3 separate regions of the Homo sapiens genome follow, and regions 1 and 3 are each linked to region 2. Evidence: fine-mapped expression QTL. A gene starts in region 2. Each other region holds a variant in brackets. All regions are shown on one strand. Distances are between the middles of the regions.

Region 1 (8,129 bases), 20 kb before region 2:
GAGGTGAAAGTTGCAGTGAGCCGAGCCGAGATCGCGCCATTGCATTCCAGCCTGGGTGACAGAGCAAGACTCTGTCTCAAAAAAAAAAAGCCTTACTCTGTCTGTGTCTAGACCCTGTGGGGCTTCTCTGGTTAAGGGGGCCTGTCCTCCTTAGATGAGCTGTCCCAGGAGGCTGCTACTTCCTGCAGCTGCTGAGGCTCACCCTCCTCTTTCCACCACTGAGGCCCAAGGCTCCAGTTGCTCTGAGGAGTGTGGAGGCCCGTGAGGTGTGGGGGTGCGGAGTGGCCGTGGAAGGTGTGTAGGGGATTGCAGTTGGGGTTGGGTGCTGGATGTGCAGGTAGAGTATAAGGGTAGGGGGTTAAGGTGTGGGGCATGGGGGAGATTGGGGAGGTTGGGAACATGGGGCAAAGTGGTGGGGGATGGGGGATGCAGGGGTGGGGATGGGGGATGCAGGGGTGGGGTGTGGAGTTATGGTGAGTGGGGGGCTGTAGTGGGGCGTTGGGGGTGGAGGGGGCTGTGAGGGTGTGGGGTGTGGGTCATGAGACATGGGACAGTGGGGGCTAACGGGGTGGGTGGGGTGTGGGGTGTGGGATGCAGAGTGTGGGAGCTCAGGGAGTTAGAAGGTCGAGTTAGAGGGTGTAGGTGTGGGGGCATGATGGTGGGGCCTGGGGGAGGGGGAGGGTGCGCAGGTGCAAGGTGTGAGGGTGGAAGGCTGGGAGACCGGTAGTGTGTGCGACTGTGGGGTGTGGAAGTGGGGGACTCAGGGGAGGAGTGGGGTGTGGAGGTGTGGGGCACGGGGTGGGGGGTTAGGGAAGGGTGGAATGTAGGGGGAGTTTGATGTAAGGGTGGGGGCTATGAGGAGGGGTGGGGTGTGAGGGTGAGGGTGGGGGCTTTGGGCAGGGTAGAGGTGTGGGGCATGGGGTGGAAGGCTGTGGGAGCAGTGGGGTATGGGGTGCAGGGCATGAGGGTGAGGGGCTAAGGGGAAAGTGGAGGTGTGGGGCATGGGGATGGAAGATTAGGGCCAGTGGTGGGGTGTAGGGGTGTAGGGTGTTACCTGGAGGGGGAAGGTGTGGGATGCACGGTGTGAGGGTGGAGGGGTGGGGAGGGTGGGTGCTGGGCATACGGGTGGACAGTGGGGAGGGGTGGGGGCCAGGCATGAGGATGAAGGGGTGGGGAGGGGTGGGTGCTGAGTGTGGGGGTGGAGGGTGGGGAGGGGTGGGGGCCGGGCATGAGGGTGGAGAAGTGGGGAGGAGTGGGTGCTGGGCGTGGAGGTGGAGGGGTGGGGAGGGGTGGGGTGCAGAGGGTTGGGAGGGAGGGGTGAGGGAAGGGGAGGTGCTGGGCGTGGGGGAGGGGGGGTGGGTGCCAAGCCTGGGGGTGGAGGGTGGGTGTGGTGGGTGCGGGGCCTGGTGGTGGAGGGAGGGTGGGTTGGGTGCTGGGCATGGGGTGGAGGATGGGTGGGGTGGGTGCTGGGTGTGGGGGTGGAGGGGTGGGGAAGGGTGGGTGCCAGGCGTGGGGGTGGAGGGGTGGGGAAGGGTGGGTGCTGGGCGTGGGGGTGGAGGGATGGGTGGGGTGGGTGCTGGGCCTGGGTTTGGAGGGGTGGGTGGGGTGGATGCCAGATGTGAGGGTGGGTGCCGGGCCTGGGGGTGGAGGGGTGGGTGGGGTGGGTGAGGTGGATGCCGGATGTGAGGGTAGAGGGGTGGGTGCTGGGTGTGGGGGTGGAGGGGTGGGGAAGGGTGGGTGCTGGGCGTGGGGGGGGAGGGGTGGGGAAGGGTGGGTGCTGGGCGTGGATGGGGTGGGTGCTGGGCGTGGGGGTGGAGGGGTGGGGAAGGGTGGGTGCTGGGCGTGGGGGGGGAGGGGTGGGGAAGGGTGGGTGCTGGGGCGTGGGGAGGGGTGGGGAAGGGTGGGTGCTGGGCGTGGATGGGGTGGGTGCTGGGCGTGGGGTGTGCACCTCCTCTGGGCTCCCCGACCTTCACCCTCGCCCTTCCCAGTCCTGGTGTCAAGGTAACTGGAATGTGTTTCTGTTTCTCTTTCTCCTTTTGATTGTTTTTCTCCCCAGAAGAGGAGAGGAAGTGTCCTTTCGGTCCCCTGTCCTGGGTCTCCTTGCTTGCCCCCACCTCCCCACCAGCCTCTGCCCTGTCCTTCTGCTCCGGAAAGTTTCCTCTGTGGAGGAAGCGTCCTGCCTCCCTTCTCTTCTCTGAAGCCTATTCGCCTGGCATTTCCTCAGCGCATGGTCCAGGACTTTAATCTCTCCTTGAGAATTCTCCATCTGTCTTTTTGAGGCATATTCTGGAAACCTCACTGGACCCTGAAGTCCATCTCTTTCGTGGGATTTTCAGTTCAGAAATCATATTTTAAACATCTTTCCTGCTCTCTGCCTGTTCTTAACTAGTATTCTGTTCTTATGTTACCTATATGCGTATTTTCTTGAATATTCTGAGGACAGTAATTAGATCTTTAACTTCATTTTTTGTTTTCCCACTTAGCTGTTTTCTCTGAGGTCAGCTGTCACCTTTTTTTTTTTTTTTTTGAGACGGAGTTTCACTCTTGTTGCCCAGGCTGGAGTGCCCAGGCTGGAGTGCAATGGTGCGGTCTCAGCTCACCGCAACCTCCGCCTCCCGGGTTCAAGCGATTCTCCTGCCTCAGCCTCCCGAGTAGCTGGGATTACAGGCATGCACCACCATGCCCGGCTAATTTTGTATTTTTAGTAGAGACGGGGTTTCTCCATGTTGGCCAGGCTGGTCGTGAACTCCCGAACTCTCAATCCACCCACCTCGGCCTCCCAAAGTGCTGGGATTACAGGCATGAGCCACCACGCCCAGCCAGCTGTCACCTTTGTGGATCCTCCCCCTCTGTCGCTGGTTTCTATGGAAAGTCTGGAGAAGCCTGCTCACCTGTGTCTAAGAACCAGTGGCTCATTTAGATGGGATACTGTGGGTTTTCCGTGGGGTCCTCCAGGTGGAAAGGTGAGCTAGGGGTGGAAAGGTAGCTGGGGGTGGAAAGGTGAGCTGGGAGGGAATCCACAGACGGGGCGTGGCTGTGCTTTATTTAGGACAGATGGGTGAGGAGCAGGCAGCAGGCTAGCATCTCTCCCTTCCCCCGAAACACTGCAATCCACACTAGAATAAGGCACATATACACCATGGAATACTGTGCAGCCATGAAAAAATGATGAGTGCATGTCCTTTGTAGGGACATGGATGAAGCTGGAAACCATCATTCTCAGCAAACTATCGCAAGGACAAAAAACCAAACACTGCATGTTCTCACTCATAGGTGGGAATTGAACAATGAGAACACATGGACACAGGAAGGGGAACATCACACACGGGGCCTGTTGTGGGGTTGGGGGGAGGGATAGCATTAGGAGATATACCTAATGTAAATGACGAGTTAATGGGTGCAGCACACCAACATGGCACATGTATACATATGTAACAAACCTGCACGTTGTGCACATGTACCCTAAAACTTAAAGTATAATTAAAAAAAAAAAAGATTTTACCCTGGGGCCCTAGACCCAGGCTGCAAGCTGTGGCCACACCCAGGATGCTGACTCCAGGGCCGTGAATAAGAATCTTCTGACGCTGCCTGGGAACCTGCTGGCTTCTTGGCGGGATACAGACGCAGGCACGGGTTGCAGAGGTGACTACTGCCAGGCACTTGTTCACAGGCAACTGGAATTACCAGCCCCCACCCCGTTTTCAGCCCCACATCTATCTCCCTTTGACCTCCCAGCTCAGTGCCACTCTGGGATCCCTCAGCAAGATGACCCTGGCCTCCACCATTGATCTCTGAGCATCTCTGGCTGGGC[G/C]CCTTCACCCTGCCCCACCGCCCACACCCTTGCATCCCCTTCCACCTTTGGAAATCATTGGCCATTCTCATCTGCCAGCACCTCTATTCCTGTTCTCTTTGGGGCTACACGTTTCTCCTTGGACTTTGTTTCAATCCAACTGGGCCTGAAGAGGAGGGAGGCCCTGCATTCAGGGTGCCCAGCAGCAACTGCCCTCCACTTAGCGGGAGTTCAGGACAGGACAGAGTGCTTAGACATCTGGGGGCATTCCAGCACTTCCAAAGACCCCGTGCGTGGTGTTCTCAACGTCTGTAAAATGTGGAGGTGAACATTAGACTATTGCTCTCCTAAGAACTTCAGTCACGCTGAGCACAGGGGGTAAATTCATCCCTGGTCGCATTCTTGTGAAAGGCATTATGTAGCAGATCATCTTTTTTTTTCTTTAATTTCATTTTATTTTATTTTAAGTTCTGGGATACATGTGCAGGACGTGCAGCCTTGTTGCATAGGTAAACGTGTGCCATGGTGATTTGCTGCACAGATCAACCCTTCACCTAGATATTAAGTCCAGCATACATTATCTTATTTTTCCTGATGCTCTCCCGCCCCCCAACCCCACGACAGGCCCCGGTGTGTGTTGTTCCCCTCCCTGTGTCCATGTGTTCTCATTGTTCAGCTCTCACTTATAAGTGAGAACACGCAGTGTTTGGTTTTCTGTTCCTGTGTTAGTTTGCAGAGGATAACGGCTTCCAGCTCCATCCATGTCCCTGCAAAGACATGATCGCATTCCTTTTTATGGCTGCGTAGTATTCCATGGGGTATATGTGCCACGTTTTCTTTGTCCAGTCTATCATTGATGGGCATTTGGGTTGATTCCATGTCTTTGCTATTGTGAATAATGCTACAATGAACATACGCATACGTGTATCTTTATAATAGAATGATTTATAATCCTTTGGGTATACACCCAGTAATGAGATTGCTGAGCCAAATGGTATTTCTGGTTCCAGATCTTTGAGGAATCACCACACTGTCTTCCACAATGGTTGAACTAATTTACACTCCCACCAACAGTGTAAAAGCATTTCTATTTCTCTACAGCCTCACCAGCATCCGTTGTTTCTTGAGTTTTTAATAATCTCCATTCTGGCTGGCGTGAGATGGTTTCTCATTGTGGTTTTGATTTGCATTTCTCTAATGATCAGCGATGTTGAGCTGTTTCTCCTATGCTTGTTGGCCACATGTATGTCTTCTTTTGAGAAGTGTCTGTTCATGTCCTTTGCCAACTTTTTAACAACAAGGTTGTTGGGTTTTTTTCTTATAAATTTGTTTAAGTTCCTTGTAGATTCTGGATATTAGACCTCTGTCAGATGGAGAGTTTGCAAAAATTTTCTCCCATTCTGTAGGTTGCCTGTTCACTCTGATGACAGTTTCTTTTGCTGTGCAGAAGCTCTTTAGTTTAATTAGGTCCCATTTGTCAATTTTTGCTTTTGTTACAATTGCTTTTGGTGATTTCATCATGAAATATTTGCCCGTGACTGTGTCCTGAATGGTATTGCTGAGATTTTCTTCTAGGGTTTTTATAGTTTGGAGTTTTACATTTAAGTCTTTAATCCATCTTGAATTGATTTTAATATAAGGTGTAAGAAAGGGGTCCAGTTTCAATTTTCTGGATGTGGCTAGCCAGTTTTCCTGGCACCATTTATTAGACAGGAAATCCTTTCCCCATTGCATGTTTTAGTCAAGTTTGTCAAAGATCAGATGGCTGAAGATGTGTGGTCTTAGTTCTGAGTTCTTTATTCTGTTCCATTGGTCTATGTGTCTGTTTTTGTGCCAGTGCCATGCTGTTTTGGTTACTGCAGCCTTGTCTGAGGTCAGGTAACTGAAGCATCCAGCTTCGTTCTTTTTCCTTAGGATTGTCTTGGCTATATCGGCTCTTTTTTGGTCCCATATGAATTTTAAAGTAGTTTTTTCTAATTCTGTGAAGAACGTCAATGGTAGTTTAAAGGGAATTGCATTGAATCTATAAATTACTGTAGGCAATATGGCCATTTTCACAACATTGATTCTTCCTGTTCATGACCATGCAGTGTGTTTCCATTTGTTTGTGTCCTCTCTGATTTCCTTGAACAGTGGTTTGTAGTTCTCCTTGAAGAGGTCATTCACTTCCCTTGTTAGCTGTATTCCTAGGTATTTTATTGTCTTCGCAGCAATTGTGAATGGAAATTCATTCATGATTTGGCTCTCTGCTTGTCTATTATTGGTGTATAGGAATGCTTGCAGTTTCTGCACATTGATTTTGTATCCTGAGACTTTGATGAAGTTGCTTATCAGCTTAAGGAGATTTGGGGCTGAGATGATGGGGTTTTCTAGATATAGGATCATATCATCTGCAGAGACAGTCTGACTTGCTCTCTTCCTATTTGAATAACCTTTATTTCTTTCTCTTGCCTGATTGCCCTGGGCAGAACTTCCAATACTGTGTTGAATAGGAGTGGTGCGAGAGGGCATCCTTGTCTTGTGCCAGTTTTCAAGGGAACGATTCCAGCTTTTGCCCATTCAGTATGTTATTGGCTGTGGGTTTGTCATAAATGGCTTTTATTCTTTTGAGGTATGTTCCATCAATACCTAGCTTATTGAGAGTTTTTAACATGAAAGGATGTTGAATTTTACCAAAGGCCTTTTGGTAGCAGGTCATCTTTACAAATGTTGTATCTACTCCTGACTCATTTTCAAAGCAGGACTCACCGTGACCCCCCCTCATCCCGCAATTGTTCCACTGCCTCGTCATTCGTCCCCAGCTTGTGAGAACGCTCACGTTGGCCCTCCGTGCCCCTCCTGATTGTCACCCACTGGGTGAATCAGTTTCCTGAGCAAAGGTTCGCCTCCAATGAGGTCAACGCACATGTGGCAGGGACCCAGTATGGTTTGTTCGGAAACCCGTTTCATGCGGAGCCAGCAGAAGCCACGTTAAACGCACGCGTTCTTCCATCCCTCTGCTCACCGGAAGCGAGCTTCCCAAGGCGGGCACGGCGCCGCCCCCCCAGTCACGCGGCTTCCGCTTCCGGTCGTGCCCTCTCGCCTCTAACTAGAGAACGCCTCGCGGTGTGAGTGAAACTCTGGCGGCCTCGCTAACACGCCAAACCTCTGTCCTCAGAATACGAAGGGCAAAGTGTGTCCCACTCACGCGCAGGCTTCCCCGCGGCGGCCACAGCGGCGGGGGGCGGGGGTCGTGCTCACCGTCGTCCAGTTCACCGGCATGTTTTCAATCAGCCATCACGAGCGAAGTGCTGCTTCGTGTCCACCAGGGAAAGCTTCAGGGAGCACGTTATTGGCACTCAAGATGCCAGCCATGGGCTGCCTGGAACGACGGTTTTTATCATTTATGTGAGTCCTGGGACATTTTCTTCCAACAGACCTAAGTATGTATGACACCAGCATATTACACGAAGCCGAGAGGGGGCTGCTCTGGGTGAGCGTGGAGGAACACACGACCCCTCCCACGCTCACGTGCCCACAACCTCCAGGACAGCCCAGCCTGGGTGAACTGCAACTTCTTTAGCTCAAGGGACATCTGCTTTTCCCCAGAGGGGCCCCTGGTGCAGAAGCAAGTTGGGGAGTGTGCAGAGCCGGGAAGAAGCAAAGCGAGGGTATGGGTGGGAGGGAGTGGGAATCCTTGGATTTGGCAGAGAACAAGTAAATTTTCGGAAATCATAGTCAGCGTGGTCTCCACAAAGATGAGAGGGCAGGAACTCGATTGGAAGGGGGCCAGTGAAGCTGCTGTCAGGAAGCTCTCACAGGGCAGTAAACAGCTCCTGGCACCCGGAATAGGAGGAGGAAGTCGAGAACCCACAGCCGCCCTGCCCAGCCTGGCTCCTCCTCACCCGCCCAGGCTGCTGTGCTCCTCACGGGAGGAAAACCCGCCTGCGTCCAGCTACCTCCAGGAAAGCAACAACTGCCCGTCCTCGACTAAAGGCCAAACCTTTTAACATTTTTGTCCTTGACCACGGCATCAGCTGTGCTGTCTACAGAAGGAACTATATTATTCCCACTTAAATAGCTCGGTGTTTCGTCAAGAGAGTGCAAACACGAGGGCTTCGGTAGAGGGAGGAGACACTGGCTCAGGAACCAGAGCTCACGGTTCCTGCTGTCTCTGCCCCTTGACCTCGGTGTGAGGCGGCTGCGACTGGGTCTCTGCTGTGTAAATATTGTGCCTGAGGGCCATTTTGACAATGACCGTTTCTACTTTAAAAACAAAGCAGACCAAGGGAGTCTCTGGTCCAGGGATAAGGTGCCTGCAGTGCTTTTCCGACACCTAAATCTCTGCTTTGTCCTGAGA
Region 2 (7,897 bases):
TGTCTTTAAAGATCTCCCCTTTGCCCTGGCCCCTCCAGTGTGCCTGTGATCTATCATAGCATGCAATCCCGTGCTATTCTCACTTAAATTTATTTGTTCTGGAGAGCCTGTTCCTTTGAATTTCCTTTTAGGTGGACAGTTCAAGACCCCTAACACATTAATCCACTTAATCCAAAGAGCTCCTCTTGTATCAGGGAAGGCCACAGGGACATCCCTGTCTTGTTCCTGACCTTGGAATTGCATTGCTTAGTTTCCAAACATGGGATTTCCCAGTTATCTTTTGTTATGAATTCCTGGCTCTCTGCCACTGTGAACATTATCTGTATGATTTCAGCCCTTTGAAACATGTGGACACTTTTTCATGGCCCAGCATACGGTCAAATTTTGCAAATGTTGTAAACATTCTTTCTGTATTGAAAACTTTTATGGTTTCCTGTACTCTGCAGCTATTTCCGATTTTGTCTTTTGTGCCTTGAAGCAGAGTGAGTCTTATCATCTGTGTCTGAGCCATCTGCTCCAAGGTTCCTGTGGTGCTAGTCGTGTCTTCTCTGCAGGATTGATTCACTTTGCAAGATGTTTGGTGCACTGAGACACTGGAAAGTTGGCAGCATCTTGAGATGTCATCAGTCCAGGGCCACGTTAAGATAATTTCGCGACTTGAGGGTTTTTTAGGCACTGTGACATTAAGCTAATTTCACAACTGTGTGAACCTGGGCCGCAGGGCTCTTCCTTGTCTTGTCCCCTGCTCTGCTGTAACCTGGCAGTTGTTGAAGGATGGGTTATTTCTGATCCACGTTTTCCTGAGGGTGAAGACTTCAGCTCCTATGAAGACTGCCCACCTGCCCCATCCCCCACAAAGACCCCACCGCTGGCATCCTGAGTGCCTTCAGGAGAAGCCCTCTGAGTGCTGGCTCGGGGGTCTGACAGATTTTTTTGACCACAGCCTCAAAATTCCTGACTCCTGGGTGGGCTCTTCAGTATATGCAAGATGGCCTCCAGGATTCTGGCTTTGTTCAGTGGAAGGGTCGACTTAAGCAGGTCACGCAGCAGTTCCTGGTGGTGGTGACTCCCAGCTTCTTTAGCTCAGCTCTTGAGTGATTTGCACTACACAGAAGGTACTGGAGACACAGTTACCTTTTCTGGAAATCAATGTTTGCAAGCACATTTGCCCTCCAAAGGTTGAAGGTTGAGTGAATTTGAAGTGGTTGGAGATTTGTTTGTAAACCACTCTTCTGCAGAATGAGAACGAAGTTGCTGCTTGGTTTTGAAGATACGGCCTTTTGTGGGAGGGCAGAACAGAAAAATCAAAGCTTGGATTTAGAGTTAAGGACACAGGAAAAGAATTATGAATATTAAAGACTGAGTTAATATGTGTCATATAGCAAATACTTTACATATTGCATGCAACATAGTAAGCTGTTCTATGTAACGGCCTCCACATTTCAGGATATCACTTGGTGACATTTCAAGGCATTTCTAAGAAACAAAACGTTAAACTTAATATTGGGCCAAAATATTGATTAAGGCAGCAGCTGAACACCCAAATATAATCTGGATAATCAAAGTCAAAAATAGGCGTTGGTATTTACTTTCTGTAGAATATAAGTAGAAACTATATAATACCAAACATCCAAACCTAGCCCAGTATAAAAAATAATTCTCCACTTAATATAGAAATCACAAAATGCAGTGTGGTGCCATGGCTTGGATCCCGGAACAGAGGTGCACGGTGGAAGTCCGCACTGCTTCTCAACACTGGACCCCAGACTGCAGCTCACTTCCATGCAGTGTTGCTTCATGTGTGCAAGCCCTTGTCAGTGTTTCATTAGTCCTCAGGACAGATGCCAAGGAGCTGCTGCTTAACTGCCTTGTCTGGTCTGATCTTAAGAAGCAAAACTTGATTGGAGCCCTGTGGTGCCCTGAAATCCAGAGCATGTTGTTGGGGGTGATTGATTTTCCTGGGTCTTTAGCAACATGTCTGATGTTTGCAGATTCTGTACCATGGGCCCTGCCGTCAGTCAAGTCCAAGAGCAGACGTGAGTCGAGTGGTCAGTGGGTTGCAGGTAACCATAGGCCAGCCGAGGGTGGCAGCCGTAGGTGGACAGCTGGGACTCCTTCCCTGTGGGTGACAGCTGTGGGTGACAGCCGTGGGTGGACAGCATGGGTGGCAGCCGTGGGTGGCAGCTAGGACTCCTTCCCTGTGGGTGACAGCTGTGGGTGGACAGCATGGGTGACAGCCGTGGGTGGACAGCTGTGGGTGACAGCCGTGGGTGGACAGCTGTGGGTGGGCAGCATGGGTGGCAGCCGTGGGTGGCAACTAGGACTCCTTCCCTGTGGGTGACAGCTGTGAGTGACAGCCGTGGGTGGCAGCCGTGGGTGGCAGCCGTGGGTGGCAGCTAGGACTCCTTCCCTGTGGGTGACAGCTGTGGGTGGACAGCATGGGTGGCAGCCGTGGGTGGACAGCTGGGACTCCTTCCATGTGGATGACAGCTGTGGGTGACAGCCATGGGTGGACAGCATGGGTGACAGCTGTGGGTGGACAGCTGTGGGTGACAGCCGTGGGTGGACAGCATGGGTGACAGCTGTGGGTGGACAGCTGTGGGTGACAGCCGTGGGTGGACATCATGGGTGGCAGCTGTGAGTGGACAGCTAGGACTCCTTCCCTGAGGGTGGCAGCTGTGAGTGACAGCCGTGGGTGGCAGCTGGGACTCCTTCCCTGTGGGTGACAGCTGTGGGTGACAGCCGTGGGTGGACAGCATGGGTGGCAGCCGTGGGTGGCAGCTAGGACTCCTTCCCTGTGGGTGACAGCTGTGGGTGGACAGCATGGGTGGCAGCCGTGGGTGGACAGCTGGGACTCCTTCCATGTGGATGACAGCTGTGGGTGACAGCCATGGGTGGACAGCATGGGTGACAGCTGTGGGTGGACAGCTAGGACTCCTTCCCTGAGGGTGGCAGCTGTGAGTGACAGCCTTGGGTGGCAGCTGGGACTCCTTCCCTGAGGGTGGCAGCTGTGGGTGGACAGCTGTGGGTGACAGCCGTGGGTGGACAGTGTGGGTGGCAGCCGTGGGTGGCAGCTGGGACTCCTTCCCTGTGGGAGGCAGCTGTGAGTGACAGCCGTGGGTGGACAGCCGTGGGTGGCAGCCGTGGGTGGCAGCCGTGGGTGGCAGCTGGGACTCCTTCCCTGACCTGAGCTCACTTCATTTGACCAGGAGCATCAAAAACAGTGTGTGCATCCAAACCACTGTGAATCCCCACACTGTAAAAACAAAAACTTCAAACGTCACATATTTTGTCCACTTTGCCCTCAATGCACGCTTTATCCATGTGAGTGTGAGCAGACATAGAGCACAGCCCTCACTCCTCCATCCACCAACCGATGGCAGCAGCAAGCACAGTCAGGCTTCTCAGCACACAGGATGAAGGAACAAGGGAAGACAGCCCCACGGTCTGACTCCGAGTCCCAGCTGAGGAACCAGCCAATAGCATGGACAGCACTACTTCCCATCAGCATGACTGTCAGGTATTTGTCGAGCACCTACTGAATATTAGGTATTTGTTGAGCACCTACTGAATATTAGGCTTTTTCTAGTCATTTTTGACCAATGACAATATCAGAGTAAAGGAAATTGATTATTCTAATAGAATTCCTCTGAATGTAACATTTAGATTGTATAGGCTAAGAAATCATAACTAAGCCTCATGTCTTAAAGTGCTGGTTGTATTTCTAGGTAGGAATTCTTACATCTAAATTCTACAGTATATGCAAGTTATCTAAAAATTAATACTTGTGAACAATTATGTATTAAAATAAATTTTTCTTTTCAAAAACCCAGGCAACTTTAAAATTTTCATTAAATCAACAATTTTAACAGCCTATAAAGGCTTCTGCCAAATGTTGAAGATCATCAGAGCTAGCTGAGTACAGAGCACCTCAGCCACCTCAAGAGTGGCAGGGGAGGAAATAAAGTCATATTTTGGCTTCACTCACATCTTATTACTTCCAGATCTGATTCTTTCTTTCAGACTGGCAGCCACTACATCCTGCTAATATTCAGAGCAAATTTCTCATGAAATGCCCTGTATCTGCTCCTCACATATGCAAAGCTGAACAATGAGTTCCCATCCATGGATTCTGCACTGGAGTCTCATGTGATGAGAGCTGTAGTGTAATGAAGACCACAGCTCTGACATGAAAATGATGATGCTATTTTCTCATTAACCAAATCCTCTGATGTGTCGTCGCCAACATTGCGCACGTGGCTTCAACGAAGATGAAACGACCGACAGCTGTCCTAGCGCCATGTTCACTCCATTCGTCTCAGGAAAAACCCATCCCAACCTGATTAGAGCAATGGAGAGAGGGTGGCTTAAAACAGCTAAGCCTTTGCATAACTCGTCTTCAAGTCAATCAGAAAAATTAGGGAGGATCTGCTGCCTAACCTTCAAACAAATATTTTGGAATTGTCTGAATTATATAAATTATTCAAGATAGAAGAGAAAGGAGATAAGGAAAGCAGAAAGAAAGGTACTAATTAAGAAAGGAAAGAACTGGAGAGCGGGAGAGGTTGGGAGGAAGGGCAGAAGAAAGAGGTAGGGGAGAGGAAGACAGCAAGGAGCAAAGGAAGGGTGGGCAGGAGGAAGGTTAGTTGGAGAATTTCTCGGATCTTATGTGTGATTATCTCCTTCCTCTGTAGCTGAGGAGTGGCATCAAAATGGCAACACTAAACTATCCAAGATCTCCTGAAAAAAAAAAACACCCCAGTGGAGAAGAAGATCCCACTCTTCACCATTATTCTTCGCGTGTTGTTTGAGAATCCCAGACTGTCTTCTGGCTCCCGTTCTTCCCCCTCCTTGGACGCCATGACAACTGTCACATGACCCTGCAAACACAGCGTCTCCAGGTCTGCACCAGGCCCCAGCTGCTCCTCTGTCTGGAATGAGCAAGACGATTTTGTTGCTGAGATGCACGGAGCCCCCCGGCTGACCTTTCCCTGTGCCAGTGAGTACCTGTGGCATGCAAGGGAGAAAGCCTATCAGGACCACAGGAGAAAGGTAGGAAAGTCCCCAATCCAGCCCTGACAGCTCAGCGGGCGGGCACCAAGCAGCGCCCACGAAATGCCTCTGCTTTCCCTGGAGTCCTGGAGGTGATTTTCTTTTTGGAGACAGCATGGTTGAAATGACATTTCCTAACAAGATTCATCATCTATGTTGCCATACAATAAAAATCTCATTAAATAGTTGACGGCTTTCTTTCTTTCTTTTTTTTTTTTGAGATGACAGCTTTCATGTGCCATGTTTTAGGGCCATCCTATTTCTAATCACAGCATATATTTAAGAAGTACTTAATTTTTCCTAAGTGACTTGAAAGCATCTTAAGACAAAAACACCAGAAGCATCCTTTTCTTTTTCTTTCTTTTTGTTTTTTGTTTTTGTTTTTGTTTTTGTTTGTTTTTGAGAGGGATGTTGCCATAGGGGTGTTGCCATGTTGGTCAGGCTAGTCTTGAACTCCTGATTTCAGGTGATCCACCTGCCTCAGCCTCCCAAAGTGCTGGGATTACAGGCATGAGCCACCGTGCCCGGCCCGGCATCCTTTTCTCTATCAAAACAGTGGACTCCAAGGGGGACTAAAAGCCAACCCTTGTCCCCATTAGAAGATATGTTATTATTTCCATTTATTGGATGCAAATGTGGACAATTGTTTGAGGGCATCGCCATGCAGATCTGAGGTGGCCTCCCACAGTCTTCTGCCCACACCTCAGTGGAGGCGTCAGAGAACGATGTTCCATGTATCATGTCTCCACATGTGTGTTGATCAGGCTGGAAATACTCTTAAGAAGGAGAAGTTTGGGTTTCTGTTTCTGGGAATGGAGACACTGCCCTGTAATGATCTTAAGTGACTACCCCAAGGAGTGAACTGCAGGTCAAGCATTTCTCTTCCTCCTAGGGTTGCAAGTGACATTGTGTGGCCTGGGCTGCAGGTCACACTCATTGCAAGGCGCCATAGCACCCAGCCCCCACCCCACGTCAGGCCTCTGCACCTGCTGTCTCCTTTGAGGTCCCCACTGGGAACTCTTCCCGGCTCCTTCCCCAGCTCAACCTCACTTCCTGGCACTCCGGTTCCAATATCATCTCCCTGGAGTCTTCTCTCTCCCCTCTGCCGCTCTCTGGTTCCTGGGCCTGCTACCTCCTGTTGCCACGTGATTGATGGGCATGTTCATTACTTGTGTTGTTTTCCCCACTCAGTGCTGACCACGTCCTGCCCACCACGATGTTCTCTGCACGTAGAGTGTGGAGTGAGCACTTGGTCAACCGTTGTCAGTAGGGAAAGATGGAAAGCAGTGGGTAAGGCAATAGCACATATGAATCAGTTAGCATTACAGTAATACTACAGGATAGAAACCCCATGGGTGTTTTCTTGTTTGCTTTTGTATCCCGGGGACTAGAATACCTCCTGCATGAGGTAGCTGGTCAGTAATCCTGCAGCCTAAGTGAGTAACCAGGCTCTGTACCTGAGAAACTGTAAGGTAAAGAAGGTTGAAATTGTCGTCATGGGAGGTGCAGAGATGATTGAATAGTGAACTTTGGTAGGTTGACTGGAGCCATGAGGCCCCAGGGGGCATAAGCTAGTTTAGCAGCTCTGTGACGTCGGAAACCTACAGGTACTGGGTCCAAGGATGGAGTCATTGGAACACCCCAGTGTGGCCCCCGAGTAGCAGCAAGGGGCATGGGCCGGGAACCTATGATTCTGGCACGAAAGTGTTGAAAAGAGGGACTGGGTGTCTGACCTGGAGGGGATGAAGTGAAGACAGAGAACCAGTCCAGAAAGAGAGAAACTGGAAGTCACATATCGTAAGGAACTGCTGTTGGGCACAGCTGACCAAGTGATGAAAAGGAGGTTGTGGTGAAGAACAGGGCAACTGAAAGCACAGCTTCCCAGCAGGGGCAGACACAGGTGGTGATGATGCCTGGGTGTCCTGGCAGGGGTATGCTGAGGGGCGTGAGGGTAGGACATGAAACCTGGCAAAGGAGGTTAAGGCAGCTGGCAGAGCCGTCCCACGGGGGTAGGGCTCATTTAGGACAAAGAAATGGGAGAAGAGCAAGATGGGCCCTGACGCTACAGGCCCCACTGAATGAGGAGAAGGGCAAGCTACAGCAGAAGGGTGAGGAGCAGCCGGGGCTGGAAGCAGCTACATGAGCAGGACCCCTCTAACACTCCACAGTTCTCCAACTGGCACTAAAACTTGAATGCAAACAATGTTTCTCCCAAATTAAGAGTGGAGAGAATCAGCTCTTTGAATAACTTAGTTTTTTATTGCTTGGCTGAGAATCTCTGAAACTGTAAAGGACCTTGGTAGAATAAGAGGAGATAAAATAAGAGGAGAAAAAAGACCTGTGGGAGAACAGTGCATCCCAGTCCCCTGATGACTGCCCTCCTAGAATAGGGGCCTCATCCTCAGCCCAGCCTTCCCCCTCAGAGCCTGAGTGGCCCCTGCCCCCAGCGCTCCCCAACGCACCTGACCCCTCAGCCAGGCTGGCCATGCCTGAAGGGGTGGCCTGCCCCTCCACACCTGTGGGTATTTCTAGTCGGGTGGGACGAGAGACTGAGAAAAGAAATAAGACACAGAGACAAAGTATAGAGAAATAACAGTGGGCCCAGGGGACCGGCGCTCAGCATACCAAGGACCTGCACCAGCACCGGTCTCTGAGTTCCCTCAGTTTTTATTGATTATTATTTTCATTATTTCAGCAAAAAGGAAAGTAGTAGGAGAGCAGGGTGATAATAAGGAGAAGGTCAGCAAAAAACGTGAGCAAAAGAGTCTATGTCGTAATTAAGTTCAAGGGAAGGTACTATGCCTGGATGTGCACGTAGGCCAGATTTATGTTTCTCTCCGCCCAA
Region 3 (5,000 bases), 63 kb after region 2:
TACCTGTTGTGCTTAGTTCACATCTCCCCTACTGTAACCTCCTGGGGCAGGGCCTTACTGCTTTTGAATCCTTGGTGCCTAGTAAACAGTAGGTTCATAATAAATATGGTTTAACAGGACTGGATTTTTTTTTTAACTGCAAGAGTAAAAGGAGAAATTATGAAATTAGTTCTATTTTATGCTTATGGCTTTCTTTGAAAGTGAAGATACATATTATTTTGACCACTACTTAAACAAATTAATTTCTTTCCTAGTTGTATGAAGCATGTCGTTACCTTGCAGCTAGGTGCCATGTAAGTATGCTCATAATTTCATTTTTATTTGGTTGAATAAAATGAGTGTTATGCATCTCTTAAATATGTGTGAGAATTTTAGTGATGGAGCTTAGCAGGTTAGTAAAGTATTTCATGAGGAAGTGTTCCTTTCCTTAGTCATGTTTGCTATAAAATACTGATTCTTCGTTTACCACATGCTGACATGCATGAAGAAAATTCTACTTTAGACATTTCACATTTAAATAATGGGCATAGTATATGTTATCCTTTAAAAATTCGGATCATGTGTTTCGTGTTAGAAGTCGTGAGTGATGAGCGGCACTTCTGTTTTCCACGTAGTATGCTGCAAAAGAGCACCAGCAGGCCCTTGATGTTCTTGACATGGAAGAGCCCATCAATAAAAGATTATTTGAAAAATACTTGAAGGACGAAAGTGGCTTCAAAGATCCTTCCAGCGACTGGGAAATGTCACAGTCTTCAGTAAGTAGTACTGTGAGCACAGCTCAGTAACGGCGGCGAGAATTGCCCTCATTACGTGGCAGAAACACATTATCTTCTTTTACTTATTACTATATTAAAACAATTGTGGTTGCCAATTTATTTAATTTGCCCACCAAAACCAAAAAAGATTCTGAGACATTTCTGAGCCCTTAGTTGCAAGCTGTAATTGTATCCGCAGATGCCTGCATCCAAAATAGGCTGGCTTGAAACTTCCTTCTCATATTTGATGCCTTAAGCTACTCCCTAAAAGTGGAATAATTTTTCTTCTCCTTTCTGTGTTTCAGCAGTGTTTTGGACCTACACCAAGAAACTTTGATTAGCGTACATTGTTTCTTTCCAGGAAATGGTTTTGTGTTCTGTTTGCTTCAAAGTACATTGCTATGTAATTGTGTATATTTCAGTTTGTATACTTCATATCTCCATGAAATTGCACATTCCTTGCTGGCAGACATCATATAGTAACTTATTAAGTGACATTTACAGATCACTAATCTGGATTTAAAAAAAAAAATAAAAACTTATTGAGGTATAATTTATATGCCATGCAGTTCCCCCATTTAAACTGTATGGTTTGATTCCTTTTAGTGTATTCACAGAGCTTTGCAAACCTCACCATGGTCAATTTTAGAATATTTTTATTATTCAGAAAGAATCCCTGTAAGCCTTACCTGACCTACCAATTTCTCTTTCTTCCCACATCTTTTTTTTTTAAATTAAGACAGGGTCTTTGCTTTGTTGTCCAGGCTGGAGTGCAGTGGCACAATCACAGCTCACTGCAGCCTCAACCTCCCAAGCTCAAGTGATTCTCCCACCTCAGCCTCCCGAGTAGCTGGGACTACAGGCGCCCGCCACCATGCCCGGCTAATTTTTTGCTATTTTAGTAGAGACGGGGTTTCACCATGTTAGCCAGGATGGTCTCGATCTCCTGACCTCGTGGTTTGCCCACCTCGGCCTCCCAAAGTGCTGGGATTACAGGTGTGAGCCACTGTGCCCGGCACAGTTGGCTAAATTTTTTAAAAAATGTTTTGTAGAGACAGGGTCTCACTGTGTTGCCCAGGATGGTCTCAAACTCCTGGGCTCAAGTGATCCTCCTGCCTTAGTTTCCCAAAGTGTTGGGATTACAGTCATGAGCCACTGCACCTGGCCCATTTATTTATATTTTTGGTAGAAGTTTATTACTTGACTTTTCACCTTAGATAGTTATTTTTAAGCATAAAAGAATATTACACATTCTAGGTTTTTGTTTTTGTTTTTTTTTCTGGCCACTCATTAATGTATGTGTTGGGAAGCAGATTCTTCTGTTAAGAAATGCATTTATGAAAGTGTGTGGTACAGTCATTATTTTGGGACCTCTTATCCATTAACTTATTTGCTATGAAATGTGTGATTTATTTGCAACGCATTATTATTTATTTTGTGAAATTACATTTTTAAAAAACAACTCCTAGGATATTGCTTAGTTCGAAGACTCTCATAATTCATTATTTTTTCTAAAATTTTACTTTATGAATCTTCTTCATATCCTTAATGATACTAGCTGCCTGTTGCTGGATCATCTTTAAATTCAGTTATGTGTTCGAGGTCCAGAGTCTAGAATGTGCATCAGATTTCCACATCTTCGTGTTTATGGTAGTCGTGAGATGGCTGTTGAACGCCTTACTATGTGCTAGCACCACAGAGATGGTAGCATCTCTAGCCCTCACAGACTTCTATAAGTTAGATAGTAAAGAGTTCTATAAGTTAGATAGTGTTTTTATCTTTTTACAGATGAGGATAGGAAATGGAGGCCAAGAGAGGTTCAATCACTTGTC[C/T]GAGGTTACAAGTAATTGGCAGAGCTGGGGTTTGAACTCAGGTCTGTGCTGCCTCAGCAGGCCATTGTGCTGACTGCTGTGACCACTCTGCTGCATTGCTGCCAGTTTCTGCTCATTAAGATCCTTTTGAGGGGTGTCTGCCTATCACACTGTCAATCTTGGAGTTTTATACACATGCACACACACTCTGCCATCTCTAAATCATTGCACTGTTTTGGACAAAACAGGTAATGAACCTAGTAGCCGTGACATGTACTTTTGTTATAAAGATGTGTTGGAACAGAGCAGTTGAAGCCCAGGGAAGGTGAATTGAAGAAGCTTTGCTGTGCATTTTTTGTGTGTTTTTATTTATGCCTTGACAGTTGTGATTGACTAAATCCTTTTAAATGCAATAAAAACTTCTCAGCATTCAAATACACAATTCTCTATCAAAAGTTAAGTTTAAGGGCCAGGCATGGTTGCTCATGCCTGTAATCTCAGCACTTCGGGAGGCCAAAGTGGGAGGATCACTTGAGGCCAGGAGTTTGAGAGCAGCCTAGGCAACATAGCAAGATTGTCTGTACAAAAAATTTAAAAAATTAACTGTTTGTGGTATTGTGCACCTGTAATCCTAGCTACTCAGGAGGCTGAGGCAGGAGGGTCATTTGAGATCATAGGAGTTCAAGGCTGCAGTGAGCTATGATCGCACCACTGAACTCCAGCCTGGGAGACAGAGTGAGACTCTGCCTCTAAGGAGAAAAAAAAAAAGTTAAGTTTAAAAGTACTGACTTAATATGTGACTCATCATTTTTCCAACAGATAAAGAGTTCTATCTGTCTTCTACGCGGGAAAATCTATGATGCTCTAGATAACCGAACCCTGGCTACCTACAGCTACAAAGAAGCTTTGAAGCTTGATGTCTACTGTTTTGAAGCGTTCGATCTTTTAACATCACATCACATGCTGACAGCACAAGAAGGTTTGGAAACTCAGGCTTTTTTGTTTTATGTTTAGCAAAATTAATATTGTTTGGATTTTTTGCCTCTGAAATCTTCTAAGTCAACAACAGGCCACATACAGGTTTAAATAGACCTACTCACTTTCTTAATGTCTTCAAATGTAAAGCACGTTGCAGAATGCAGTATTGTACGGTGCCTTGTGCTGTCCGAATCTAGGGATTGTGATAGGAAGAGGCCATCTTTTTGAGAAGTGATTGAGATAGTATAAACCAGGATTTCAGTATCTCATGCAGTGATTCTCAACCGTGTTGCTCTTTACATCCTTGGGAAGACAGAGAAACATCCATGTCCAGTTCCCAACTCCAGAGCAGATGCTTTAAAGCTCCCAGGTGATCCTAATGTACCACAGGCACTGAGAATCAGTCCAAGTATGTTGGCAGTGGTGTGAGGTGCGTCAACAAGGGAAACAGAAAATAGAGTGGTTGGATTAATGGGATTCTAACATATTTTAGCCTAGTGCAGTGGTTCTCAACCAACCAGAGTGATTTTGCCGCCCCCTGCCCCGGGAACAGTTGGCAATGTCTGGAGATGTTGTTTGTCACAGCTTAGGGGCAGGGAGGGAGGTTGAGAGGTTGCTGCTGGTATCTAGTGGTTAGTGGCCAGAGGTCCTGCTTAGCACCTGCAGTACACAGGCTCCCCTGTTCCCAGCAGAGCAAGATCCACGCAGTCAGGAGTGCGGAGGCTGGTGGTTCTTAGGTGACAAGAGCCACCTGGGGACCTGCCTCAGCCCTGAAAGAGTAGCCTCCACCCACCAGATGATTCCCGTCTTCAGGCCTGGAGCCACTGTGTCAGCTTCTGTTGCACATTTTGATCTTATGTTCTCTTTTGAGTTTGATTTACTTAGACCAAGAACTGTAGAATCATATTTTTAGTTGTTGGCTTTTTCCCCTCTATAAATATTATGAGGATATTCTTTTTTTTCTCACCATTTTTAAGAAAAAGAACTTCTTGAATCACTACCCCTTAGCAAGCTGTGTAATGAAGAACAGGAATTGCTGCGTTTTCTATTTGAGAACAAATTGAAAAAAGTAAGTAAAACCAAAGAGTTAGCACTTGCTTTATGTAAATATCTTATTCCATAAAATTTGGCATCTAGTCTTATATTAAGTTTTCAAAATTAAAACTTTTTAAATTTAGCACATTTTTAAGAATAGAGCGTTTAAGATACATAAGATTCCAAAAAAAAAAAGCTTTCAAAAATACCTTTTTCCTCTGAAAGACTCCTTATACTAAAAGATTGAATTACCAAGTAAATGTAAATGGAATGGTGTTGCATGGAAATGAAGATTTTTTTGTTATGCTTCCTGAATGTTTACTTTGAGAAATACGTCCCGCTGTGGAATTCTGTTCTAAAATTGAGAAGGGAATTAAACTTACTGAGAGGAGTACTTATAAAACCTAAAGTTATAAGTTTT

Evidence for each region. PIP is the estimated chance that this variant, and not a neighbour inherited with it, causes the effect.
Region 1: its variant is fine-mapped to the expression of CFAP97D2 in blood mononuclear cells (TOPMed, PIP above 0.99). The same link has a PIP of 0.9 or more in whole blood.
Region 3: its variant is fine-mapped to the expression of CFAP97D2 in whole blood (INTERVAL, PIP 0.94).

What each region holds. Positions count from the first base shown.
Region 1 is chr13:114,154,491-114,162,619 of GRCh38, forward strand. No RefSeq gene overlaps it. Among named protein-coding and RNA genes, the nearest start is that of CFAP97D2, 21 kb to the right of the region's middle. RefSeq lists an enhancer at 7,262-8,129. The variant G/C (reference allele first, on the strand shown) is at 3,812.
Region 2 is chr13:114,174,369-114,182,265 of GRCh38, forward strand. It overlaps CFAP97D2 (CFAP97 domain containing 2), which reads left to right and starts at 4,889. Exons shown (of 4, transcript NM_001395229.1): 1 at 4,889-5,052. The coding sequence starts at 4,963.
Region 3 is chr13:114,238,736-114,243,735 of GRCh38, forward strand. CDC16 (cell division cycle 16) reads left to right here. Exons shown (of 18, transcript NM_001078645.3): 4 at 255-293; 5 at 615-755; 6 at 3,386-3,545; 7 at 4,522-4,613. Among named protein-coding and RNA genes, the nearest start is that of MIR548AR, 3.3 kb to the right of the region's middle. The variant C/T (reference allele first, on the strand shown) is at 2,588.